4 separate regions of the Homo sapiens genome follow, and regions 2, 3 and 4 are each reported to be linked to region 1. Evidence: microRNA targets listed by miRTarBase, many of them from high-throughput screens and not tested one by one. Region 1 holds a microRNA gene; each other region holds the end of a gene's coding sequence.
Evidence for each region. The annotated mature microRNA hsa-miR-6886-3p reads UGCCCUUCUCUCCUCCUGCCU and lies in region 1 at 1,307-1,327, opposite strand. An mRNA with a match to its seed (bases 2 to 7 or 8) in the 3' UTR can be bound and repressed. Matches are read on the target gene's strand: a 7mer-m8 pairs with bases 2 to 8, a 7mer-A1 pairs with bases 2 to 7 and ends in A, and an 8mer does both.

Region 2: miRTarBase lists FBXO47 as a target of hsa-miR-6886-3p. The part of its 3' UTR that is shown has no 7-base or 8-base seed match.
Region 3: miRTarBase lists NPTX2 as a target of hsa-miR-6886-3p. Seed matches in the 3' UTR shown: 7mer-m8 at 3,295-3,301.
Region 4: miRTarBase lists SPPL3 as a target of hsa-miR-6886-3p. Seed matches in the 3' UTR shown: 7mer-A1 at 2,635-2,641, 7mer-m8 at 1,758-1,764 and 7mer-A1 at 1,192-1,198.

The regions. Positions count from the first base shown.
Region 1 is chr19:11,110,838-11,114,837 of GRCh38, reverse strand. MIR6886 (microRNA 6886) reads right to left here and starts at 1,364; the gene lies at 1,304-1,364. LDLR (low density lipoprotein receptor) reads right to left here. Exons shown (of 18, transcript NM_000527.5): 8 at 3,199-3,324; 9 at 1,389-1,560; 10 at 1,076-1,303.
Region 2 is chr17:38,930,153-38,937,792 of GRCh38, reverse strand. FBXO47 (F-box protein 47) reads left to right here. Exons shown (of 11, transcript NM_001008777.3): 11 at 503-1,361. The coding sequence ends at 618. Among named protein-coding and RNA genes, the nearest start is that of LASP1NB, 8.4 kb to the right of the region's middle. RefSeq lists enhancers at 7,008-7,554, 7,555-7,640.
Region 3 is chr7:98,625,985-98,633,624 of GRCh38, forward strand. It overlaps NPTX2 (neuronal pentraxin 2), which reads left to right. Exons shown (of 5, transcript NM_002523.3): 4 at 1,181-1,360; 5 at 2,418-3,885. The coding sequence ends at 2,645. Among named protein-coding and RNA genes, the nearest start is that of NPTX2, 13 kb to the left of the region's middle. RefSeq lists enhancers at 352-858, 2,947-3,560.
Region 4 is chr12:120,761,718-120,769,357 of GRCh38, forward strand. It overlaps SPPL3 (signal peptide peptidase like 3), which reads right to left. Exons shown (of 11, transcript NM_139015.5): 7 at 7,236-7,342; 8 at 6,608-6,771; 9 at 5,677-5,876; 10 at 4,546-4,655; 11 at 793-3,353. The coding sequence ends at 3,282. Among named protein-coding and RNA genes, the nearest start is that of ACADS, 40 kb to the left of the region's middle. RefSeq lists a silencer at 1,381-1,544.

The sequences.
Region 1 (4,000 bases):
TCTCAAAAAATAAAAAATAAAAAGGGGGCCGGGCGTGGTGGCTCACGCTTGTAATCCAAGCACTTAGGGAGGCCGAGGCGGGTGGATCACAGGGTCAGGAGATTTAGACCATCCTGGCTAACGCGGTGAAACCCCGTCTCTAATAAAAATGCAAAAAATTAACCGGGCGTGGTGGCGGGTGCCTGTAGTCCCAGCTACTCGGGAGGCTGAGGCAGGAGAATGGCGTGAACCTGTGAGGCGGAGCTTGCAGTGAGCCGTGATCGCACCACTGCACTACAGTCTGGGCGACAGAGCGAGATTCCATCTCAAATAAATAAATAAATAAAAATAAAAAGGGACGCTGGCCATAGCGGGCCCACCTTCACCCGCAGGCATCTGATGATGCTCTCTTCCCTGCTTTTCCCTTCCAGACACCAAGTGTGCCTTCTCCAGTGTTCTCTGCTGGAAACCCAACATTCACCTCCTGATTGTAGCTGCAAGGACAGTGTGCGTCCCGGGTTGTCAGCACCACACTGAAACTGTGAAATGCCACCTCTCACGTGCTTAGGTAGCAGATGTCACCTGACAGGTACAGAGTACACCGGGCAGGTGGCAGGGGCGATGCTTCCTGCCAGGGGACACAGGTCACAGTGTCTTGACCCAGGAGCTGCTGAGTCAGCCATGGGCTTGGAAGATACCATCCTGTTGTCTAGCCACTAACCAGTTTTTTGTTTAGTTTTTTTTTTTTTTTTTGAGACGGAGTCTCACTCTGTCACCCAGGCTGGAGTGCAGTGGGGCTGTCTTGGCTCACTGCAACCTCCATCTCCCAGGTTCAAGTGATTCTCCTGCCTCAGCCTCCCGAGCAGCTGGGATTACAGGTGCCCACCACCACACCCGGCTAATTTTTGTATTTTTAGTAGAGACGAGGTTTCACCATGTTGGTCAGGCTGGTCTTGATGATCCACCCACCTTGGCCTCCCAAAGTGCTGGGATTACAGGTGCTTTGAGCCACCATGCCCAGCCCACTAACCAGTTCCTGAAGCTCCTTCCTGCTCCCTCCATTCCCTCTGCAGCCCTCAGCGTCGTGGATACGCACCCATGAACAGGATCCACCACGATGGCCCTTGGCTTGGAGCCGTTCTCCCTGAATAACGTTTTCCTCTTCACGCCCTTGGTATCCGCAACAGAGACAGTGCCCAGGACAGAGTCGGTCCAGTAGATGTTGCTGTGGATCCAGTCCACAGCCAGCCCGTCGGGGGCCTGGATGTCTCTGCTGATGACGGTGTCATAGGAAGAGACGCCGTGGGCTCTGTCAAGCTGGGTGCTGAGGCAGGAGGAGAGAAGGGCATCAGCGCCAGGAGCCCTCATCTCACCTGCGGGCCAAGGCTGCAGGCAGGGGCGACGCTCACCTGCAGATCATTCTCTGGGACAGGTCAGACCAGTAGATTCTATTGCTGGCCACCTCCGTGTCCAGAGCGACCACGTTCCTCAGGTTGGGGATGAGGCTGGTGTACTCGCTCCGGTCCAGCGTCATCTTCCTGACCTCGTGCCGGTTGGTGAAGAAGAGGTAGGCGATGGAGCCTGGGGGTCCGGGGAGCGAGGTCAGGGGGTCAGAGGGGACCCGTCGATGGAACCAAGAGTGCCTCCCCATCCCCTTGTGTCATCCTGCAGGGTGCGGCTGAGCCAGAGGAGGCACCCAGAAAAAGAGGGTGGAAAAGACCTCCCAACGGGAACAGGCACAGTGGCGCCCACCTGTAATCCCAGCACTTTGGGAGGCTGAGGGAGGAGGATCACTTGAGGCTAGGAGCATAAGGCTAGCCTGGGCAAGACAATGAGACCTTATTGCCACAAAAAAAAAAAAAAAAAAAAAAGCCAGGCACGGTGGCTCAAGCCTGTAATCCCAGCACTTTGGGAGGCTGAGGCGGGAGAATCGAGACCAGCCTCACCAACATGGTGAAACCCTGTCTCTACTAAACATACAAAAACTAGCCAGGTTTGGTAGCCGGAACCTGTAATCCCAGCTACTCAGAAGGGTGAGGCAGGAGAATTGCTGGAACCTGGGAGGTGGAGGTTTCAGTAAGCCAAGATCGCACCACCGCACTCCAGCCTGGGTGACAGAATGAGACTCTGTCTCAAAAAAAAAAAAAAAAAAATTAACCAGGCATGGTGGCACATGCCAGTACTCCCAGCTCCTCCAGAGGCTTAGGCGGGACGATCACGTGAACCCAGGAGGTCAAGGCTGCAGCGAGCTATGATGGAGGCTGCACTGCACTACAGGCTGGAAGATAGAGCAGCACCCTGTCTCTAAAAAATAATAATAGCCAGGTGTGGTGTCTGTAATCCCAGCACTTTGGGAGGCCAAGGCAGGAGGATCACTTGGGTTCAGGAGTTCAAGACTAGCCTGGCCAACATGGTGAAACCCTGTTTTTACTAAAAATATGAAAATTAGCGGCTGGGCGCAGTGGCTCACGCCTGTAATCCGAGCACTTTGGAAGGCCGAGGTGGGCGGATCACGAAGTCAGGAGATCGAGACCATCCTGGCTAACACAGTGAAACCCCGTCTCTACTAAAAATACAAAAAAATTGGCCTGGTGCAGTGGCGGGCTCCTGTAGTCCCAGCTACTGGGGAGGCTGAGGCAGGAGAATGGCGTGAACCCGGGAGGCGGAGCTTGCAGTGAGCCGAGATCCTGCCACTGCACTCCAGCCTGGGCAACAGAGCGAGACTCCGTCTCGAAAAAAAAAAAAAAAGAAAAAAGAAAATTAGCCAGGCATAGTGGCATGCACCTGAGGTCCCAGCTACTCCGGAGGCTGAGGTGGGAGGATCAACCAATCCTCCTGCCCTCAAGCAATCCTCCCGCCTCAGCCTTCTGAGTAGCTGGGACCACAGGTGTGTGGCACCATGCCCAGCTAATTTTTTTTCTTTAACCCCTTGAAGTCACTCCCCAGGTTGTCCCTGAAAGGAAAGCCGGTTCCTGTTCCACCAGTAGGGCTGAGGGTTCCGTTAACTGGATATTCCCAAAAACTAGGACATATGCAGGCATCCCCCTGGCAAGCCCAAGTCCTAACAGGGCGGCAGACTCCCCTGCCAGAGCCCTCAGGAGCAAACAGCCTCCCGGTCAGGGGATATGAGTCTGTGCAAAGTTCAGAGGATGAAACTCCCCCACCACTGCTGCCTGCAAGGGGTGAGGCCGCCCCCACCCGCCGCCTTCCCGTGCTCACCCACAGCCTTGCAGGCCTTCGTGTGGGGGTCCAGCTGGAAGCCTTCCTCACACTGGCACTTGTAGCCACCCTCCAGGTTCACGCAGAGCTGGCTGCAGGTGTCGGGATCCTGACACTCATCGATATCTGGAAGAGAGAGAAAGAGGCTTGGTGGGGAGGCTCTTCCCCAATGGCTAGAGACGGAGCGATGGGGCCCAGGCCAAAACCCACACCTTCGAAGGCAGCCAGGAGACAGCCCAGCCTCTCGGGAGATGTAATCAAGGAAACAGCCAGGTGTCATCCCCAGTCATCACCTGACCTCATCATTCACCACGGGAACCCAACCAAGAGTGTGAAGCTGTGTCAGCTGAAATTTCTTTTCTTTTTTTTCTTTTCTTTTCTTTTTTTTTTGGATGGAGTTTCACTCTTGTTGCCCAGGCTGGAGTGCAATGGCACGATCTTGGCTCACCACAACCTCCACCTCCCAGGTTCAAGTGATTCTCCTGCCTCAGCCTCCTGAGTAGCTGGGATTATAGGCATGCACCACCAAGCCCGGCTAATTTTGTATTTTTAGTAGAGACGGGGTTTCTCCATGTTGGTCAGGCTGGTCTGGAACTCCCGACCTCAGGTGATCTGCCCGCCTCGGCGTCCCAAGGTGTTGGGATTACAGGGATTACGCACCCGGCCTGAAATTTCTTAATTACTAATCCCCAGAGGCAAGAAACTCTGGCCAGCCAATGATAGTTTTCCATGCAGGTGGAATCTCATGAAACCCTCCTAACTGCTTTCAAGCACACTTAACAGATGGGGAAACTGAGGCATG
Region 2 (7,640 bases), not on the chromosome of region 1:
GGGAGGCTGAGGCAGGAGAATCGCTTGAACCCAGGAGGTGGAGCTTGCAGTGAGCCAAGATTGTGCCACTGCACTCCAGCCTGGGCGACACAGGGAGACGCTGTCTCAAAAAATAATAATAAATAAATAAATATTACTAGGGAAAATTAGAACATCTTATGTTTCAAATAAATTATATACGTATAAGGCGGGTGGATCACCTGAGGTCAGGAGTTTGAAACCAGCCTGGCCAACATGGAGAGACCTCATCTCTACTAAAAATACAAAAATTAGCCAGGTGTGGTGGTACATGCCTGTAATCCCAGCTACTCGGGAGGCTGAGGCAGGAGAATTGCTTGAACCCAGGAGGCAGAGGTTGCAGTGAGCCGAGATGGCACCACTGCATTCCAGCCTAAGCAACAGGGGGAGACTGTGTCTCAAAAATTAAATTAATTAATAAAATAAATTATATACTTAACATTTTAACTGTCATTTTCTTTTCCCCACTATGTATGGCATATAGGAGACCGTGATGAAGATGACAGAAGCTTTTTGAATTTGTTCCATCTTGTACATGCTCAGGCTAACTTCCATAAGGAGGTCCTGTATTTGACCATGAATACTCCTCTGTCTACCTAAATCCTCAGAAAGCCTTGCCTTTAGAGAACGTCACTGAACGAATGATTAGAGGAGTGCTACTTTTTCACTCAAAAAATAGCATCCATGGGACTTTTTATCATCTAAGTAACCTAAGAATTCAAAAGCTGGATAGAATTTTAGAAGCAACTACGTACATCATTATTAATATAAAAATAACAGGCAGCCTCAAGAATGTGCTGAGATTTCTCTGGAAAACAAGCTCTGCCTCTCCGGGTTTTAGTCAACCTAACACCAAACCAAAATAGAATGTTAGCTGTTCAAGAATCTGGGACCAGCCAACCTGTATGTATGCATTTTTGAAGCAAGAGAAAATTCCATTTTATAGTTAGACCCAAATTCACTAAATAGTGTGTATGTTCACTTTGTTTAAGTTGTATAGACATAGCCCAGAATGTTTTGTGAAGATTTGCAATATGGTGTTTTGGAATGTGTAGAATACAAATCACAGTTTTTACTACCTTCTTGGCATATGCTTACAAAGAACATTATATTTTGTTCATGTTTTACATGAACTAATGGATAAAAAACAAAGTATACATATATGTCTATATATATATATAGACACACACACACAGACATATATTTCCTTCTTTAAGGTAATCATACAAAAGGTCTATACATACAGGAAGGTATATATTGTCTCAATGCAATCAAATCATCTTTTACTGGGGATTCAAATAAAATGTAGCAAATAAGAGAAAAATAAAATGAAAGAAAATAGCGATTCTGCTGCCAGAATAATCTTTACAAATAGTTTTTACTTCTTCCTAAAGCTTTTCTCCCTATCTTAAAAAGTGAGATTTGTCTGGGCACAGTGGCTCACACCTGTAATCCCAGCAATTTTGGAGGCTGAGGCAGGAGGATCCCTTGAGTCCAGGAGTTGGAGGCTGCAGTGAGTTATGATTGTACCATTGCACTCCAGCCTGGTGACAGAGTGAGACCCTGTTTCTAAACAAAACAAAACAAAACAAAACAAAAAAACAAGATTTGACAAAGGAAACTAAACGTATGGGTGGTTTACAGCAGCCCATGAGAGAGTGGGGTTCGGTTCTCTTCTCTCAAGTATATAGATTCCAAGAAGCTGCAGGACTGTTTCAGCCTGACTAGCATCTGCCACTCCTGCTTTTACTTTTACTATTAAAGTAGATAGTAACAGTACTTGACAGGGCTGAAATAATGCTGGAGTCCTCCTGGATCTCCCATCCCATTTTTTTCTCCTTGGGTTTGAGCACTTTACTTCTGAAGACACATTGCTTCCACCTGGACTTCTCAGAGGCTGGCCTTCTTTACCCAAGCTCTTGATTTAACTCACCTTTGGAGCTGATGAAGGAAAGAAACACTAGAAGATATGGAAAGTATCTGCAGAAGTAGGGGGTAAATTGTGGGAAATTCTCAAATGTTTGGTAAGAGGGACTCAGTGAGAGATGAATAGGACTGAGGAAGAGTGAAAATTGTGGAGAAAATACAAATTGTGAAAACAGGATTTTATTGTACTTCAGTAGTAAAGGCACTTACCTTCATTTCTGGAAGGTGAGAAGTTTAACTGTCTTTCTTAGATGGATTTTCCAACTGTAATTCCATTGGTGGCAGGAATTTTTTTCTCCAGTTTTTCATTAGCATATTTATGCAAAAACAAAGTTCTTGCTTTTATCCTGATTTCATTTTCTTCTTCTCAATGTAAGAATTCACCTTCAGTTGAATTATAAATGGAATTGAATTACAAAGATTAAAAGTTGGCAGATACCAGAGTATAAAATAATACCTTAGTTTTTTCATTTTCCCCTCTCTTTTTTCCTATACATGCTTGCAAAGCATAGATCTATCAAAACATTGATTATTCCAAGTTAAGAATATACCTCTTCAACTATCTGTGAGGGAAAGAAAAAATAAGGAAAAAAAAGTAAAATATTCAAATATAAATAGTGAATTTTTTTTTTTTTTGAGATGGAGTCTCACTCTGTTGCCCAGGCTGGAGTGCAGTGGTGTGATCTTGGCTCACTGCAACTTCTGCCTCTCTGCTTCATGCTATTCTCCTGCCTCAGCTTCCCCAGTAGCTGGGACTACAGGTGTGTGCCACCACACCCGGTTAATTTTTTTGTATCATTAGCAGAGACAGGGTTTTGCCATGTTGGCCAGGCTGGTCTCAAACTCCTGACCTCAGGTTATCCACCTGCCTCAGCCTCCCAAAGTGCTAGGATTACAGGTGTAAGTCACCATGCCCAGCAATAGTGAATATTTTTAATATTTTACTAAATGGATTCTAGATTTCATTTCCTTAGAGAAAGAAATTTGGCATTGTAAAGTTTCCTTGAATTCCTTGAATTATCCATCTCCACAGCAATTATTTTTAGCAAGTTTACAAAAGAAGCATGTAAAACATATTTGGTCTGGGTTTTGAATCTTCTTTATTCACTTGAACTGACATGACTGCTGCTGTAATTAAAAAAAAACCTCACATTATTTATTTCATTATTCTCAATAATTGTGAGATTATTATATCATCTTACCAAAAATTTGGAACATAAAAAGTTTGATTCATTCTTTGGGTGCAGGAAATAAACTGTGTCATTCTGCCACCAATAAAAAGCAAGCTGACAAATTGTCCATTCAATTGTTAAAACATACAAATAACATTTATGACCAAATTTGGAGTTTTTTCAATTCAGTGGTCCATTCTTTTTTGCCGAATACCTTTGTCATGAAGAATAAAGTGTAATGTCAAATTTTAAAGGGGAAATTAACTTTTAAAAGCATATGTTGTTATTACCATTATTATCAATGTTTAAGTGATGGTATAGGCAGTCATTGTCACAAAAAAAGAGCATTTGGAAAATGAATAGTTTAAAAACATTAGGAGACTGTCAATTTCTCACTAACTCTGGAACAGTCATAACAACATAACTATGTAAAGTACTAACAAGTCAGATAATTTAGCCTGTACTGTTTTTTAAAGTAGAAGATTGGCTGCTGGGCGCGGTGACTCATGCCTGTAATCCTAGCACTTTGGGAGGCCGAGGCGGCAGATCACAAGGTCAGGAGTTCGAGACAAGCCCGGCCAAGAGACCAGCCTGGCCAACATGGTGAAACCCTATCTCTACTAAAAATACAAAAATTAGCCCGGCATGGTGGCGGGCGCCTGTAATCCCAGCTAGTTGGGAGGCTGAGGCAGGAGAATTGCTTGAACCCAGGAGGCGGAGGTTACAGTGAGCTGAGATCACGCCATTGCACTCCAGCCTGGGCGACAGAGCAAGACTCCGACTCAAAAAAAAAAAAAAGATTGGCCTAAATTAGCAGACCTGGGGGCCCAGCTCCTTTTTCGTTTTTGTAATGCTTTCCTCAGCCTCCTTTGACTTTGATTTGTAGAATGATTTTTTACTCCCTGTAGAAGGCAAGTTCAATAACACATTATTATCTTTATCTTTATTATTATGTCTACAGACACCATGCACCATAATAGTACTAACAAACTAATGATGCTATCTTCCTTAGAAACTAATTGAAAATGTACAACTTGTGATAAGCTCTCTGTATCTTGTGAAACTATGAAACTTTAACACTTTTTTGGAGGACTCCTGCTCATGCCAATTATGAGATACCCAACAGAAGGTGCAGCTGGAAATACCATCTTATGTCAATGAATAACAAACACTAACCTCTTTGTGATTATTACTAAAAGGTTAACCTCCTTATGCAAATAGTACTCAAATGTATGATTACAGATTTTTATGTCAATAAATATTGTGAAGGGTAAAAATAAGGCTATTACAAAAGCCTCTTTGGTTATTGGATATCTTACTAACAACGTGACTTCTGTAGCACTTCCACTAGCAGGTAACTGTGAAACCTGTAAGAAATCAGGATATGGACATATGCTCCTTGGTTTTTGAGGCATTACTAAGCTAGGAAAGGTGACCTGAAAGATAGCTGCATTGAACAGTCTTCTCCAGGTTAAAAAAGAAAAAAAATTCCAAAGGACTAAGATTGCATTCTTTTCATCAAGAAAACAAATATATTGCATTTAAGGGCAAGATTGAAAAAAAAAAAAAGAAAAATATAACTCCAGAAAATTCCTCAAACTAGAGACTGAAAAAAGAACCCCACAAACCGCAACAATTTGGCCTTTGAAAGACTCTTAAATTAAAATAATAATAGTAATACTTGTAGACATTCTGAGATCACTGCTTTCTTAAAGGTGCGTATAACGAAAATATGCATTGCTATTTCAGAAGTATTCTTTTTATGGTAAATTTTCTTTGATACTAAATATTTGATATTTGCTAAATTTTGTTTATTTACTATATTAATAAAACTATGTTAAAATTGAAAACATTCCATCTTGTTCAGAGTTTGTCATTATGCAAGTCATTGAGCTTTTTGTGGGGGAACTTACCTTCATTTAAGCTGTTAATTATAGCTCTACCATGATCAAAAAAATGAAATGTCTTAATATAAATTAATATTGTAATTAGCTGTATATTTATGTATGTGTATACTTACACTTAATATTAACATATAAAATTAAATAATTTCATTTACTAGCAATAACTCATAAACAATAATCTATAGAACAGTATTCTGCACTGTTCTGCTATTTAATTCAGTGATTAAATCCGTAAGCAATGAATATTCCAATTGCTGCTAAACTAGAAATGCTACAATTATCATAGCTTAATATCAGTTTCAAAAAATAAAATATGTAATTAAATATTGTGGATTACCTGCAATTTCCCATGACTATAAGATCTTACAGTGTTTTTTTGAGACAGAGTCTGTCACCCACGCTGGAGTACAGTGGTGCGATCTTGTCGTACTGAAACCTCTGCCTCCCAGGTTTAAGCGATTCTCCTGCCTCAGCCTCCTGAGTAGCTGGGACCACAGGCACACACCACCACGCCTGGCTAATTTTTGTATTTTTAGTAGAGCTGGGGTTTCACTTTGTTGGAAAGGCCGGTCTCAAACTCCTGACTTCAGGTGATCTGCCCCACCTCGGCCACCCAAAGTGCTGAGATTATAGGCGTGAAGCACAGTGCCCGGCCTCTTACGGTGTTTGTTTTTTGTTTTGTTTGTTTTTTTGAGAGATAGTCTTGCTCTGCCGCCTGGCTGGAGTGCAATGGTGCAATCTCGGCTTACTGCAACCTCTGCCTCCTGGGTTTGAGCAATTCTTCTGCCTCAGCCTCCTGAGCAGCTGGGATTTACAGACACGTGCCACCATGCCCAGGTTTTTTTTTTTTTTTTTTTTTTTCTGTATTTTTAGTGTAGACAGGGTTTCACCATGTTGGCCAGGCTGGTCTCGAACTCCTGACCTCGTGATCCACCCAGCTCAGCCTCCCAAAGTGCTGGGATTACAGGCATGAGCCACTGCTCCCAGCCTGTGTTTTGTGTTTTGTTTTGTTTTGTTTTGTTAAGACCGAATCTCTCTCTGTCGTCCAGGCTGGAGTGCAGTGGCGCAATCTCGGCCCACTACAACCTCCACCTTCCGGGTTCAAGTGATGCTCCTGCCTCAGCCTCCTGAGTAGCTGGGATTACAGGCATGTGCCACCTTGCCCGGCTAATTTTGTATTTTCAGTAGAGATGGGGTTTCACCATGTTGGCCAGTCTGGTCTCCAACTCCTGACCTCAAGTGACCTACCTGCTTCGGCCTTCCAAAGTGCTGGGATTACAGACGTGAGCCACCACCACACCTGGCAGTCTCACAGTTTAAATTTTAAGTACAAAGATGTTCTTAAACATTTCTAATGTATCTGCCTTGGTGTGTTTGATTTTATAATGGAAGTTGTGTCAATGGCTTTTTCTGTTCCCCTGTTAATATATGACTTTGGTTTTATTTTTGTTTAAAATAGATGGGCACAAAACTGACTTAGAAGAGGCCACTCTACCGCCCATCGTCTGGGATGTGAGGAGCCCCTCTGCCTGGCTGCCCAGTCTGGAAAGTGAGGAGCGTCTCTGCCCGGCGGCCATCCCATCTAGGAAGTGAGGAGCGCCTCTTCCCGGCCGCCATCCCATCTAGGAAGTGAGGAGCGTCTCTGCCCGGCCGCCCATCGTCTGAGATGTGGGGAGCGCCTCTGCCCCGCCGCCCCGTCTGGGATGTGAGGAGCGCCTCTGCCCGGCCACGGCCCCGTCTGGGAGGTGAGGAGCGTCTCTGCCCAGCCGCCCCGTCTGAGAAGTGAGGAGACCCTCTGCCTGGCAACCGCCCCGTCTGAGAAGTGAGGAGCCCCTCCGCCCGGCAGCCGCCCCGTCAGAGAAGTGAGGAGCCCTTCCGCCCAGCAGCCACCCCGTCTGGGAAGTGAGGAGCGTCTCCGCCCGGCAGCCACCCCGTCCGGGAGGGAGGTGGGGGGGTCAGCCCCCCCGCCCGGCCAGCCGCCCCGTCCGGGAGGGAGGTGGGGGGGTCAGCCCCCCACCCGGCCAGCCGCCCCGTCCGGGAGGTGAGGGGCGCCTCTGCCCGGCCGCCCCTACTGGGAAGTGAGGAGCCCCTCTGCCTGGCCAGCCGCCCTGTCCGGGAGGGAGGTAGGGGGGGTCAACCCCCTGCCCGGCCAGCCGCCCCGTCCAGGAGGTGAGGGGCGCCTCTGCCCGGCCGCCCCTGCTGGGAAGTGAGGAGCCCCTCTGCCCGGCCACCACCCCGTCTGGGAGGTGTGCCCAGCGGCTCATTGAGAACGGGCCATGATGACAGTGGCGGTTTTGTGGAATAGAAAGGGGGGAAAGGTGGGGAAAAGATTGAGAAATCGTATGGTTGCCGTGTCTGTCTAGAAAGAGGTAGACATGGGAGACTTTTCATTTTGTTCTGTACTAAGAAAAATTCTTCTGCCTTGGGATCCTGTTGATCTGTGACCTTACCCCCAACCCTGTGCTCTCTGAAACATGTGCTGTGTCCACTCAGGGTTGAATGGATTAAGGGCGGTGCAAGATGTGCTTTGTTAAACAGATGCTTGAAGGCAGCATGCTCGTTAAGAGTCATCACCACTCCCTAATCTCAAGTACCCAGGGACACAAACACTGCGGAAGGC
Region 3 (7,640 bases), not on the chromosome of region 1:
AAAATTAGAAAGTTAGCTAGGTGTGGTGGTGTGCACCTGTAGTTCCAGCTACTCGGGAGGCTGAGGCAGGAAGATGGCTTTGAGCCCAGGATGTCGAGGCTGCAATGAACTATGATCGCACCACTGTACTCCAGCCTGGGTGACAGAGCGATACCCTGTCTCAAAAAAAAAAAAAAAAAAAAAAAGGCCACTTTGGGCCTCCTGGGGACCTCTCACAGCCCTGCTTCCAAACTTTCATTCTAATGGCAGACTCCATATAACAAAAAGAACATTCTCAGAACCTGTCCGGATTTGGGCATTTGAGTGGCTACGCAAACTCCCTGCCACCCGGGCCACCCCTGGTGGAGGCGGGGGCAGTTCAGCCCCTCACTCTGTTTGTCCTCACTGAACTGCCCTGGGTGGAGTCTGTCGAGGTTTAAAAAACGCTGTGGCATCAGCCTGCTGGGCTCCTCCTAGATAGACCCCCTTGCCTGAGCCAGGGGTTAAATAATTGTTCTAAATAACACCCTATGACACAGTGGGGCTAAGAGCCTTGTTGTCCTCTGGGTTTGGACGGCTTGTAAACATCGAATTCCTGGGAGGGAGGCTTCGGGTTGCTAGGAGACCAGCAGCAACAACGCGGTGGTTCATAGGCGAGCCTGCATAGAAAGTGCTTGCAGGACCGCCAGGGACCCGGCCAGTGGCAGCGTCCTCCCCCCAGTTCCTCACGCTGTCCGTGAGTTCCCTGCTCACACAGATACTCACACACGTGCCGCTGCGCAGGGAGGACGGGGCACACCCGCAGCACACAGATCCCTGCGTGCCATCATGGAGGTTTGGGACTTGGCATGAGGAATGAGGATCTCTCGTCTGTTTTCCAAGGAGACTGGCCCCATGGAACGCTGACTTCCCGAGTTTCTCTGGCATGGAGAGCTCAGGGCCAGCGTGGGGGTGTTGACCCTCACATCTGTTCGGTCCTCAGCCACGCCAGGCACCAAGGGTGTCCCATTAATGTGAGGGCTGCTCTGGGGTCAGGGTTTCCACCAAGGCTGCCCCCTTGCATGTTCTCCACGCATGACCCCGGTGACAGGAGGAGCAGTGTGGCCCAGGGGGACTGTGGGGTGTCCTTCCTGCTTCCTGCCCTGGGGGACCCTGAGGGCGTGGGCCCAGCAGGTCCTTACCTGCACATTGCTGCTCACAGGTTGCGCAGCTGCCCCTGTTTGTCAGTGACGGCAAGTGGCACCACATCTGTGTCACCTGGACGACACGGGATGGCATGTGGGAGGCATTCCAGGACGGAGAGAAGCTGGGCACTGGGGAGAACCTGGCCCCCTGGCACCCCATCAAGCCCGGGGGCGTGCTGATCCTTGGACAAGAGCAGGTGGGTGCAGGGCAGGTGCAGGTGGGCACAGGGTGGGTGCAGGATGGGCACAGGGTGGCCGTGCGCCCTTTCAGGGATGGTGCGAGGAGGGGCCAACTGAGCAGCACGAGGCCAGGCCTGCAGCTGTTCCTGCTCCCGGCCCCAGCTGTTGGCCCCTCAGACCTGGCCACAGTGTCCTGACAGCCAGGTCGGGGGAGTGAGAACCCCCGCAGCCTGGCCCTTGCTGTCCTGTGGTTAGAGGTTGGGCGTGGGGTCACGGCCTGCATGGCAGGGACCAGGTGGGTGTGTGGTTCAAACAGATTCCAAATAGAACCTGGCACAGAGGGGTGTGAGTGTCCCTGTGGTCATGGGTCATCTCGTGACACAGGCTCCAGCTTCCATCTGGGAGGAGGCTGTGTGAGGGACCCTCCTGGGATGCTCATGGTACCAACTCAGGATTGTGGGGCTGGTGTCTTCCAGGAGCCCCCTGCTCAGGGTCTTAACCCTGATACCCAGCAAGGGGCACTTAGGTAATCCATAGTGGGTGCTCAGCCTGTGGGGGAGACAGGGATGAAAGGGTGGCACCTCAAAGTGCCCTCAAGAAACTTACCATCTAGGGGAGGGAATGGCTAAGTTGGCTGTCTGGTCTAGGACAGATAAGTGTTGGCATTCCAGTCTGTATTTGGGTTTTTGATGATGGACAGTGGGGCGTAGACTCCAGGTGCACTGGGGGGCTTTGAGTCTGGTTCCTTCTTGGCCCACTCCTCCCTCAATTTCCCCTGCTACATCTCCGCTGGGAGGGGCTGGGAGTCATGAGACCTGGCTCTGATCCTGGCTTTGGGACTTTGAGCAGTGTCTTCCCTTACCAGCCTCAGTTTCCCCTGTATAAAATGGGGAGATTTGAGCGATGCCACCTCCCAGTTCTGACATGCCTGGGAGCTTCAGAACCTACAGAAACAGGTAGTGTTGGTCAGAGCTGGGGGGCATCAGAGAAATGCCCAAATCTCCTGTCTGCAGCCCGTGTGCAGGGGGACTTGTGAACCAGCCCTGACGCAGCTCTCTTGTTCCCATTCCCCAGGACACCGTGGGGGGTAGGTTTGATGCCACTCAGGCATTTGTCGGGGAGCTCAGCCAGTTCAACATATGGGACCGCGTCCTTCGCGCACAAGAAATTGTCAACATCGCCAACTGCTCCACAAACATGCCGGGCAACATCATCCCGTGGGTGGACAATAACGTCGATGTGTTCGGAGGGGCCTCCAAGTGGCCCGTGGAGACGTGTGAGGAGCGTCTCCTTGACTTGTAGCCGCCTTCTCCTCTGTCCAGGAGGCCGGGATCAGGCTGTTGCCATGGAAGTTCAGGGCCATAGACTGCCCCACTTAAACTCTTGTCAGTCTGGGCTCAGGGTTCCCAGAGCTCATTCCCCAGGAATCTCTAAGACCAGGGCTGGGGCAGTGTCTGTCACTGGCTTGTTTGTTCCCTACCAATATTCTGTTGCTGTTTGAAGTAGTGCCAGGGTCCCCTGGGAAGATGCCCCCAAGACACCTGCCCCAAGTGGGTGGATATCTGCCTTCCTGCTGCAAGTGGAGGCAGGTCCAGCAGCCCCTCTTCAGAGCCCCTGTAAATGCTATCGCAGCCTGAGTCCTGCCGCCTTCCAGTTCCTTGGTGTCCCGTGCACCCCTTCTGTCTGTCCCCTTTCATGGCTGTGCAGCCGTCCCGCTGGAGTGGCCATGTCCCTTGTGCATTGAGTGCATCCCCGCTGGTGACTAAGCTCGCAGCAAGCGGCTACCCCCCGATCTGCAAAAGGGCCTCTCCCTTTGTGTTCTATACATTGTGAATCTTCCCGTCTGAAGAACGCCCAGCCTGCCCAGACAAAGCCCCGCCTTCCCCAAAGCAGAGGGGCTGTCTGTGTCTCCAGAAAGGGGACATCGGGGGGGAGGGGGGCTCAGAAAGGAGAAGGGCTGTGATCTCCGGTCCCTTCCCCCATCATCCTTCCTTAGACTGATGCTTTGACTGAATCATCACTAGCTATGGCATTAAAAGGCCTCTCTTCTCATCTGGTGCCAAAGGTTCCGTTGCAGCTTTTTACAACCATCCGGTGTGGTTTGGAGGATTTGTTTTTTTTTTTTCCCAACAGAAAAGAACAGCCATTAGAAGAAGGCTCCCATTTTCTGATGTTCCGCCCCACTGTGAAGAGTGTGCTCGTTTTAAATTCATGTTGATTCTTGTAAGCACTGGACTGTCTTCATCAAGTATTTCCCTACAGAACTCCTCAAGAAAACAGAGATCATTTGGCTAGAGATTGTCTGAGTGACTCCAAGCTACTCACTGTATTGGACGGGAGTAGTAATTTATTTTAAAGATAAAGTGACTAAGTGGGGAAATTTATAAAGCTAAATATTATATATTTTATTTTTCATACATGTTTGAAGTGCAAATCTGTGGATATTCCATTTGTAGGACCAAGTCGACATGCCCATCCTGACATTGTATGCTACGAGAACTCTTCTGATGATGGAATTTCGATTAAAGTGCACTGAAAGATGCTTCTGTGTTTGTCTTCCTCATGTTCTGGGGCTGAAGGTGGGAAGGGGTAGGGCTTTGCAACTTCTGGCAGAAGGATGATGTCTCTGGTTTGCCGCAGCCTGCTTCTGGTGGGTTTGGGGGCGCTGAGGATGGTTAGAGGAGGGTGTGGTCCAGCTGTCCATCCTTCCTATTTCAATGCCTGGCTCAGGCTGTGGGTGCCTGGCAGGCTCTGCCCAGGCTCCTTGTCCCCAGCTCACCCCTGTCTTCTCAACCAGGAGAGCCAGCTTAGCTAGAAGACCTGCGGCCGCCTTCCAGGTGTGGTACCTGCTTAGCGTCTACTCTGTGTAGGTGTTCTTTAGACATCTCATTGAATCCTCCCTGAATGAGCTAATCCCATTTTACAGGTGAATACACAACAATTAAAGCTATTTTGGGATCATGCAGCCGATAGAGGATAGAGCTGGGCTCAAAGCCGTCCTGTGGCTCTGAGGGCTCTGTCCCTTCCACTGCTCACTCCAAGGGGCCCAGTGCCATTGTGTCCTCCCAGATCCGCCTCTCTGTGCTCACCTGGCCCTGGCTGGTGCGTTGATGGTCTCACAAGCATTAGATCCCCCCCACCGCCCACCACCACCACCTCTTTCCACTTTTGTCGTTTTACTCTGTCTTGGTAGCTGCAGAATGTAACTTAGTTTGTCCCTTTTCCAAGTAGCAATGTCAATTTCTATTATAATTGCGGCCTTTTCCAAGTAGCAATGTCAATTTCTATTATAATTGCGGAGCAGAGCCTAATCTTGGAGCCAACTGACAACTTATGCCAGATGTACTTGATACCAAGGCTGAAATGGAAGCCATAACCTCTAAAACCAAGACCGGCAGGTCACAGAGGTTCCTGGAGTCCATTTTTGATGTTGTGAAGTATAACTTGGCAAGAACTAAATACCACTGGTGTTGGGTAGAACATGAAATGAGGCCAGATATCCTGCTCAGGGACCTTTGAAACTCAAAAGTGCTGAGACCAGGCGGAGAGCAGTTTGTTTTGAATCTCCTTCATGCTGGAAACACCAGCTACTCAGATCTCCCCCTGAAAGGTGCTGAGGGGTTTCCTCACTTCATATGCATGCCAGGTGCTGAGCCAGCCCAACTTTTTTCCCAGGCACTGCCTCCCACAAGAGCATCGCTTTGCATCAGGGCTTTGGAAACGCTGCTGAGCCAGATAACTTCCTCCCTGCAACTGGAAGAGCTTTGAGCCCACAACATGGGATCAAACTGCTCCTTGCTGATCTGACCTGAAGATGAGAGAACCACCTCTCCATATCATAGCCGCACACCAGTCCTCCTGTTGGCAGTTTGGTCCTCCTGACATACAAGCAGAAACAAGAATCATTTATGCAATCCAGCAAGTTCCTTATGCCTTGATCCTCCCATGTGAAGGAGACCTGTGGCCTCAGTTTCCCCCACTCAAGACTCTTTTTGTATGTTTGTTTGAGACGGAGTCTCGCTCTGTCGCCCAGGCTGGAGTGCAGTGGTGCGATCTCGGCTCACTGCAACCTCCACCTCCCAGGTTCACGCCATTCTCCTGCCTCAGCCTCCCGAGTAGCTGGGACTACAGGTGCCCGCCACCACGCCCAACTAATTTTTTGTATTTTTAGTAGAGATGGGGTTTCACCATGTTAGCCAGGATGGTCTCGATCTCCTGACCTTGTGATCCGTCCATCTCGGCCTCCCAAAGTGCTGAGATTACAGGCGTGAGCCACTGCGCCCAGCCTCAAGACTTATTTTTTGTACAAGGCTGGAAAGATACTGATAGCAAACTGGGTTCTCCAAGAAGGGTGGGGTAGAGATTGTCCTGGATGATGGAATATTCAGGTTGCTTAAGGGTTGTCATGGAAACGGTAGCCAAATGATCAATGATTAATGAATTGAAAAGTAATAAAATGCAGCTAAATCAAAGGCAGGCTGGGACCAGGTCTCCACCAATAGGAAAGGCAGACCAAGATCCTGCCCAGCCTCTGGGGGCTTTGACATCAGCTCTCCTTATACAGAAGCTCTCAGAAAGAAAAGATGACTTCCTTTTGAGCACAGATGTTATCATTTATTCTGTCAACAAATATCTGGCGCACCTACTTTGTGTCAGCAACTATTCCAGGCACTCGAGATGTAATGGTGAGCAACATAGCAAAGTTCTCCTTTTAAATGGAGATTAATTTCAGTGGGAAGTGTAGATAGAAGGCAAATATATAAACAAGAAAAATGCTGGTGATGTGTTAGGGAGTCACTGGGGAACTACTTTCTGGGGTCACCTTTAAGCTGGGACCTAAATGAAGAGAGGGAACCAATCTTGGGTGGAACCTCACAGACAGAGGGAACAGGAAGTGTGAAGGCCCTAAGGTAGAGCTGAGCTTGGATGTTCAAGAGAAGAAATAGCCAGGTTGGCTGCATTCACAGGAGAGGAGAGGAGTGGATGGGATGAAGAGATTGTAGGATCAGATGACAAAGAGCCTGTGTTGAGATCTCAATGAAATGGGAAGCCTGGAGGTTTTAAGGAGAGGAGTGTGATAATGTGATTAATATTGTAAGCCCACTACTCTTCCTGGTGGATGGAGAATAAACTGTAGAGCATTGTAAAGGGAAATAGAGAAGACTCGTGAGGAGGTTACTGTACTAGTCCAGGTAAGAGGTCATGATGGCTTGGACTAGGGAAGTAGCAGAGGAGACAGAAAAAAAGTGGAAGAATTTAGGATATACTTAGAAGTAGTCATCCTGACTTGTTGATATTTGGAATTTGGGGAGAGAAATAAAATACAATTTTTAAAAACCTAAACTCCAAGTAGGATAAACTGAGAGAGATTCACACCCAGAAATATTACAAACTGTTGAAAACCAAGTAAAGACAGACAATTTTGAAAGCAGCAAGAGAGAAGAGATTCAAGATGTACAAGGAATCCTCAATAAAATTTATAGCTGAATTCTCGTCAGAATCTATGGATGCCAGAAGGCAGAGAGATGACACATTCAAAGTGCTGAAAGAAAAAGACTGTCAACCAAGAATCCTATATTTGACAAAGCTATCCTTCAAAAATGAAGGCAAAATTAAGACATTCCAAATAAACAAAAACTGACAATTTAACACTAGTAGATCCGCTCTACAAAAAAATACCAACGGGAGTCCTTCAGGCCAAAGCGAAAGGATACTAGACGGTAACTCAAATCTACTTGAAAAAATAAAGAGCACTGTTAGAGGTAGCTATATATGTAATTATAAAAGTGTAAGTGTATTTTTTTGTTTATAACTCTTTCCTTCTTTTATCTGATTTAAAAGACAACTGTAAGCTGGGCGTGGTGGCTCACGCCTGTAATCCCAACACTTTGGGAGGCCGAGGTGGACATATCACGAGGTTAGGAATTCAAGACCAGCCTGACCAACATGGGGAAACCCTGTCTCTACTAAAAAACACAAAAATTAGCCAGATGTGGTGGCGCACGCCTATAATCCCAGCTACTTGGGAGGCTGAGGCAGGAGAATTGGTTGAGTCCAGGAGGCAGAGGTTGCAGTGAGCCGAGATCGCCGAGATCACGCCACTGCACTCCAGCCTGGGTGACAGAGTGAGATTCCATCTCAAAAAAAAAAAAAAAAAGACAACTGCATAAAGCAATAATTATAAATTTGCATTGATGGGCATAAATGTATAAAGACGCAATTTGTACAACAATAACAGAACAAAAAAGTGGAGAGGGGATGGAGCTATGTAAAAACAAATTTTTTGTTACTATTATA
Region 4 (7,640 bases), not on the chromosome of region 1:
CTTTACAAAACAGAAACGTACACACAACATGGGATCTGGTGAGCAGTAACGTGAGAGCTGCTAAGCAGACACAGCAGGTTCTATTTTTAACACTTGATTGGCAAAATGGAACTCCCTTCCCCTCCACCCTCACAGAGAACGAGTACTTTTGTTTTTCTTGTGGGTGACCTAACTTACCTGTTTACCCAAGGCCTGTGAGCCTGCTACAAAAGTAATTCAGACAGTAGCTTAGTCCCAAGCCACCGAACCGTTCCTATGCGGGGAGCTGTCACTGTCACATTCAGAAAGCGTATGCACTGTAATAACAGCAATGGAACACACTAGGCTTTGGACAGACTTTACTGTCATATCTTCATTAGCTCAAACTAGAAAAAAGAGTTATTAAAAAGCGGGAGTTCTAGTAACACACAGTCTCTTTGTGAGGAAAAAGGACTTCAGATCAGTGAGGAAGGAATCTGCTGAAATTTCATGAGCATGCCATGCCTAATGCAGCAGACTTCCTAGAAAACCCCTAAACCATGGTATTTGAGAAAACAGAATAAGAGGCGGACCTAAGTGTATCAGGCAGCGGGGAGCAAACGAGCACTGGAAGGGAAGTCTAATGTGTGCTTTAACTGCAGCCACCCACTCAACCCTCCGAGACGAGTAGAGTATTTGCTGTTTCTCTGCCAAAGTTTTAAGGGAGTGTTTTAAGGGCTTTGAAGATTAGCAACTGGAATCCAGGGTGCATTCACAGCCCTGTGTGGGTATTTCCCCCCAAAACCTGCACAGAAGTGAGAATGACAAAATAACGACGTTCCTTCTGTCTGGAATTTAATTTTCTTATGAAAACAAAGACAGAAAAATTAAAATGACCCACTGCCAGGATAACATTTCCTTTTTTTTTTTTTTTTTGAGATGGAGTCTCACCCTGTCGCCCAGACTTGAGTGCAGTGGCGCAATCTCTGCTCACTGCAACCTCCGCCTTCCAGGTTCAAGCGATTCTTCTGCCTCAGCCTCCCAAATAGCTGGGATTACAGGCGCCTGCCACCATGCCCAGCTAATTTTTGTGTTTTTAGTAGAGACGGGGTTTCACCATGTTGGCCAGGCTGGTCTCGAGCTCCCAACCTTGTGATCCACCTGCCTCGGCCTCCCAAAGTGCTGGGATTACAGGCATGAAGGATAACGTTATTTCTACCCATCACTGGCACTTGCCCTTAATCCGAGTCATTTTGGAGCCCCCCTCTCTGTCTCTGGGCCTGCTTAATTAGCTATATGCATCCTCGAGGGCTGAGAAGGAAGGAAGGGAGAGTCCGCAAGTGGATTTTTAGTCTTCACCCAATGCAGAGGCAGTTTTGAGTTCTGTGGACAGCAGAAGCTTCAGTTCTTTGATGTATCTATGACTGGGCCAGAGCTGCAGATGACCAGGTCTGGGGACAGACAGAGTCTTCCCATCAGTCTTCCAGAACAGGGAGGAGATGGCTGGGAGCTCTGTTTGGTACCAACAACCAAAGTGAAGATTATGTGACAAAGGCTACAAAGGAGTCATTTATTAAAAACAAAACCCCAGAAACCCCTCAGCAGGAATTGATGACAACAACAGAGGAATCCAACACCCTGACTGCTTCAGACTCTGTTGACAACAGGATGGGTGCCCCCTGTGAGCTCGATCCACAGTGACTTCAAGCCACAGTGACACAGCACACTAATTCATTACACAGGTCAAGACAGAGGCAGCCACTGGGGCGGGGACCCTTGGGGAGAGGCTGGAACTCAGGGCCCTTCTCCAGCCTTTGTTGTCAGGCATCCTCATGCCAACCGCAGGCTTCTCTTTGCCTCTGAACAATGGGCACCTTCTTACCAGGCAGGGGCTGCTTAGGTAAAGGTCAGCAGACCTAACACTAGTTACTCCCAGAAATCTGGGCTTGCAGCAGAGACCACAGCACAGGGCCAGGCTCTCAGGACACAGCAGCTGGTTCTTTCCCCAGTTACTGGAATTTAGGGCCCATCTCAGAGGGGCATTTGACATGTGTCCCCAACACCCGGTTGTCACCACAGGTAAACCAAGACTATAATCACAACAGCAAGGACAGGATTGTGTTGCTTTTTTCCTTTTTTTTTTTCTTAAAGGAGTGAGGGCATGGAAAATATACAGCACACCAATGAAACAAAATGTCAAAAAAAAAAATACAAAAAAATAGAAAATAGAAAAATGTATTTACAAGTAGTACGTTACTATGATGAGAAAGCACAAAGACACCTGCTGCTATAATACATGCATTGGCTCGAGAAGAAACTACGGAACACCCTGCGAGGGAGAAGCCTAGAAAAGAAAGAAAGGGCCAAAAGGTTTGAACTCTTCATCCCTAATTTGCTACACTGATCAAAACCAAGTAAGGGCTCCTGAAGTCCATGAGTCTATCATCAATCAGCACAAATGCTATACTAGTTTGTAACTGCGGGGTCAGTTGTGAAGGGGAAGGACAGCAGCTTATCCATATACAAGGAAGCCACAGTAAACTGCTCGACATGCTCAAAACGACAGCAAGCCCCTGTCAGCTACACAGCGTGATCTTAGCAGGATTTCATTTTTGTTTATTCATATATATCTATGTGTGTGTTTATATATATATATGTACGTATGTATAAAAACCGTGCCCTTGTTCACTGCCAACACAACATCTGGGTGGACATGAACTCATTACAACAAATTCTTATGTGGATGTTGTAAGAAGTCACTCAATGTCTGTGGATTTAATAAGTCACTTCACACCACAGAAAATATTTAATAAATCCAAAAAAAGGAAAGAAGAATATAACGACAGAAGAGCTTCTGTCTCAGTTCTCTGAAACTGAGTCCCCTATAGGAAACTGGTCCCAAAGTTCTCGAGGGGTCATTGAAGAAACTTCGGTTTGCTAATTTTTTTCATCCTTTTAGTGTTCAAAAGTTCTAGAAAGACTCCTCGCTGTTTTCAGTTTTTAAACAGTCAAATCTCCATCTCCCCCAGAAGGTAACAGTCTGGTGCAGATCCATAAAAACGTGGGAGGAAGGCGCGCTGGGGAGAGGCCTGTCCCTCTTGGAAGGGGCCCCACCTCTACATCCGCAGGAAGAGAAGGAACCAAACAGGGCTCCAGCACCTCTCTCCTGCAAACGAGCTCCCTTTAAATGCCAAATCCAGTCACACGGCAGTTCCTTAAACACAGGTACATTTCTGAGTACCAGGCCAGCTCTAAGAGGAAACAAACCATGAGTTGAGAGAAAAGGACTATGACGGCCATCTGGTCACTTTCCACGTGATCCATCATACTTCCAGGAATCGGGAGCTGCTGGACTTGGAGTGGAAAGGCTCAGACCACATCCGCCGGAGGTCGCCCTGGGAAACAAGGGACTTTCTAAGTTACAGATTTAAACATGAGGCACACACAGCTGTCTGATTCTTTAAAAAAAAAAAATTTTTTTTCCAGGTATGAAGTCTTCCTATATATTGGCCAGGCTGGTCTCAAACTCCTGGGCTCGGGCAATTCTCCTGCCTCGACCTTCCAAAGTGCTAGGATTACAGGCATGAGCTGCTGCGCTTGGCCCCTTTCTGATATTTTTTTTTTTTGAGATGGGTTCTCACTCTGTCACCTAGGCTGGAGTGAGTGCAGTGGCGAGATCTCAGCTCACTGCAACCTCCGACTCCTGGGTTCAAGCGATTCTCTTGCCTCAGCTTCCTGAGTAGCTGGGATTACAGGCACTCACCACCATGCCCAGTTCATTTTTGTGTTTTTAGTAGAGACAGGGTTTCACCATATTGGCCAGGCTGGTCCTGAACTCTTAACCCGCCTGCCTCAGCCTCCCAAGGTGCGGGGGTTACAGGCGTGAGCCACCATGCCCCTGGCCCCTTTCTGATGCTTGATCTGAGATCAGATTGCTTCTGTGGGAAACCAAAGAGCATTTAAATCTTACCCATTCAAAAATAACCCACTATTTTTAGGAGGACTCCCTAGAAGGGGTGCTTTTAGGCTCCCTGAGCAAGAAAAGGGCTTTTATCAACTCTCTAGAGGTAGTGAGTCAAGTGAGCTGGGCAAGTAAGTTGACCTCTGTATCTGCTTCCTCATCTGTAAAACGGGGCTGAGAATAGATATCTGGGAAATAATGTGCTCTTGAACTCTGGTTTTATCATATGCTGCCTCAACACTATTCAATCTTAATTATTCCCAAACTTTAACGTAGTGTTAAGCTGTTAGGTGGCAGGAGGGCACTGCTTTGAACAGAAGCAGGAAGTACCCTCAGCTGGGCTCTGGGGCTTTCAATTAGTTATTCCTCGACCAGGTGGTGTAGTGGTCTAGCTCATCAGCATTTTCTGTCAGTGGCTGCACGAATCTGGAAGCGTTTGCTAACGCCAGGGTAGCGCGCGCGCGCACACACACACACACACACACACACACACACACACACACACAGTCGAGATCACAAGCTCACTCAGGGGCTTAAGCAGAATCACCTCCAGCGAGGAGAGTGCAAACCGAGGCACAGGCCAATCCAAGTTATTGCTTTCACAGGTTTATAACTGCTGCTCTCACCTTTAAATAGGCCATCGTGAGGAGTGGCAATAAAGTAAATGGCACCAAATAGAGAAGGGCGGGCTGGGCGGCCCGGTGAATGCGAGACGCCACAGTAGCAGTGAGCAGGCCTGTGAGGAGAGAGAGGCATCTGTGAGACACGAGAGGGAACCCGTGTCACCTGGCTGCTGCTGGGCAAAGTCCTGCAACTGTACAGATCTAATGTGCTGTCGTCCATTCTATGGTTGGGGTGTGAAATGCCCAGCTTGGGCAGTTGAAGAAATGTGGATCAGCACAGCTTTAAAAAACACCTACAACTCCAAGGACACATGACTGACCCAAGTCTCACTCCTTGCTCAGGTTCCTGGGTTCAAACCCTCCTTCCAGCTCCAAGTGTGCCTCTGTCTCCTGTGATGCTGGACTTGGGAGGCAGAAGACCTGGGTTCAAGTTCCAACTCTGCTACTCACAATAGCTAACATAAATGTAGTTCAGACCTTCCACCTCTCTGAGCCTCAGCTTGCTCATCTGTCTAATGGGGATAATGCCACTTGCCTTGCCCCTCTGAGTTTGTGGACTGAAATGAACCCATGTGAATGAACTGCTGTGGGACGAGGACAGTGCTGGGGTTGAGGAGGACGTACGGAGTGCAAAAGCTCCTTTCCAGTCACTGTGCGGGAGCAGTTGCATGTGCGGGCAGGTTACTGCTTTTCCCAGCCCCATCACAATCATCTCCTGTCTGCCTACACATGAGCTGGCTACAAAACTTGGCCTAGGTCAGAGTGGCAGAAATGTAGAACTAATGAATGTAAGTAAGTATCTATTGAATAAAGTAGGAAATAAATACGACAGTCATTCAACTCTAGAGGAAGATTTAAGCACAGACTAATCCACTGCACTGTGTGCTGTGTGTCCTTGGCTTTGAGGACTGACCTGCTTTTCCTACAACGTTCTTCAGATACACAGCTGGAGAGGGAACTGGCCTATCCAGTACACAAAACACTTAGCATCTCACGGGCCAGGCTGTCTATTACAGCACCCAGAATTCCTGCTCTCCTTCCATCCAGTAACTGTAGCTAGAAGACCTGATTTAATTCCAAAGGTTGGAGGACAGCCAGAGCGAGGATCATCTGCAGTCTCTCTGGTTCTCTTACCTACAAAGTATCCGATGAGGGTGCAGTGAAAGTAGGAGACCTTCTGCATGCGCCCGGAGATGTTGGCAGGTCCAGGGGCCCCACAGGAGTCCCCACTGGCTTGCTTTTTGTAGTTGTCATAGCGAAGGACAAAGCATAGTAGGAGACCAGGCATAACGATGTCTCCGATGCCCAACATGGAGAAGTGGCTGCCAGTGGAGCTGGAATGCAGTTTCACAGGTTAGTGACGTCACACTCTACAATCCAGTTTCTATTCCTTTTGTGCAAAGTTTGTTAGCTTTTTAAGGAGTCAAAGAGCTTATCTGCATGGCAGATGGAAATCTCTTCTGATGGAACATTAGTTTTAAGAGTGTAGAGAGAAAAAGCTGCAACAGTACTGGCACTAGAGGTCTCCACCTTGGCCCCCCTGTTTCAGGAGAGCCCCTTGGAAGTGACTGCTGAAGTGATTTGCATAAGTGCTGCTTCCTCTAGAAATGTCAAACAATTCATCATTTGTGACACATTCACTGTTGAGACTTCAAATAAGCACCTGGCTACTATTACAGGTGGAAGATTAAAGCAGCACATTCATTCTGCCAAGATTATATTACCAGGAGTTGTATAATTCTACCATTAGAACTTATTTTTATAAATATCTTACAAGTTAAAAGGATCGAGATTCTCCTAACTCCCTCCAGCCAACTCTAAACAGTGGAAACAGCAGTAAGGCATGGCTGTTTGCTGACATTAATCAATAATAAAAGGCACCGCCTGGATCACTCAGTGATCCTTCTTGGCAAGCCAAGAATCTCATCCTCATTTCCTCTTCTGCAGCATGGAGATAATGGCCCCAGGTTGGGATCAGAATGCTGATGACATTAGAGACTGATCAAGGCCGGGAACAGATAGGCACAGGAAGACAGTGTGGTCCTGTCATAGCATGAGGTCTTACCTTGGGAAGACCAGTTTTCCAGGCAGAGACAGGCGAGGAACATCACGCCCAACATTGGGCCCCAGGTGGAGCTTCCGGGATAGAACGTCAAGGGGATTGTCAGCCGGCTGAGTGGCCACCTTCACCATGACGTTGCTATTGAAGATGTAGGCTGAGAAAAATACCTGCCGAGTTGGAGAGATGCCTTTAACAGAGGGAGTTGGAAGCAACCTGCTTTCAGCATCAGCCCTCCTTGCTCTTAAGAGCAGAGTCTCAGAATGCTGTGACTGCAATGCTTTCGTTGACTGTATGATTTGAGAAAATCTTTGCTCTTCCTGTGTACTTGCCAATTTCTGCACTCTCCACACCCAGAGATTACTCCCTGACGGGGTGGCCCCCACTGCAGCGAATCTTGTCAGCCTGTTACCTCTTCTATCCTAGGAGTCACACACACACACTACCTACTGTACGACTTTTCAGCAAACAAAAGGATCGGACTGCACACCCATGATACAGTTAAGGACTGGAGAGAGAGTGATCAGCAGCTGGGCAAGCCCGACTTTGGATACTTCTAGTTAATAGTTTTCAGGCATGAATGCTTCACTTCAACACAAAGAAGGGGAGGAGCTCCAAGGACATAAACGCTTACCCAAAAGACATCATAGATGAGAAGCCCTGAGAGAAGCAGGCAGGAGACCTTGAGGCTCGGCAGGCGGACAAAGGCGATCATGGCGACACAGAGGCCCATGGCCAGTGCTGGGGAGGAGACAGGGTACAGCAGACAGCAGTCAGTGTGGACTCCAGGCTCATCCTCTTTCCACAAGCTATGGCCCTTCACAGAGTTTGCAATTCCCTCAAAAATCAGGCAGCCCTAAGCTCCAGCTTCAGAAACTTACATGCAACTGGTGCAAAACACCCGCTTCTTCAGCCTGTTTGGACTTGTGGAATTTGGGGTGATTGCTTTCCTCCTCCTAGACATAGTGCTCGGCTGTTGGAGACCCAGGAAACCAGTCCAAGACCTCCAAGCTCTCTTTTCCTGCCTTCCCTCCAATGT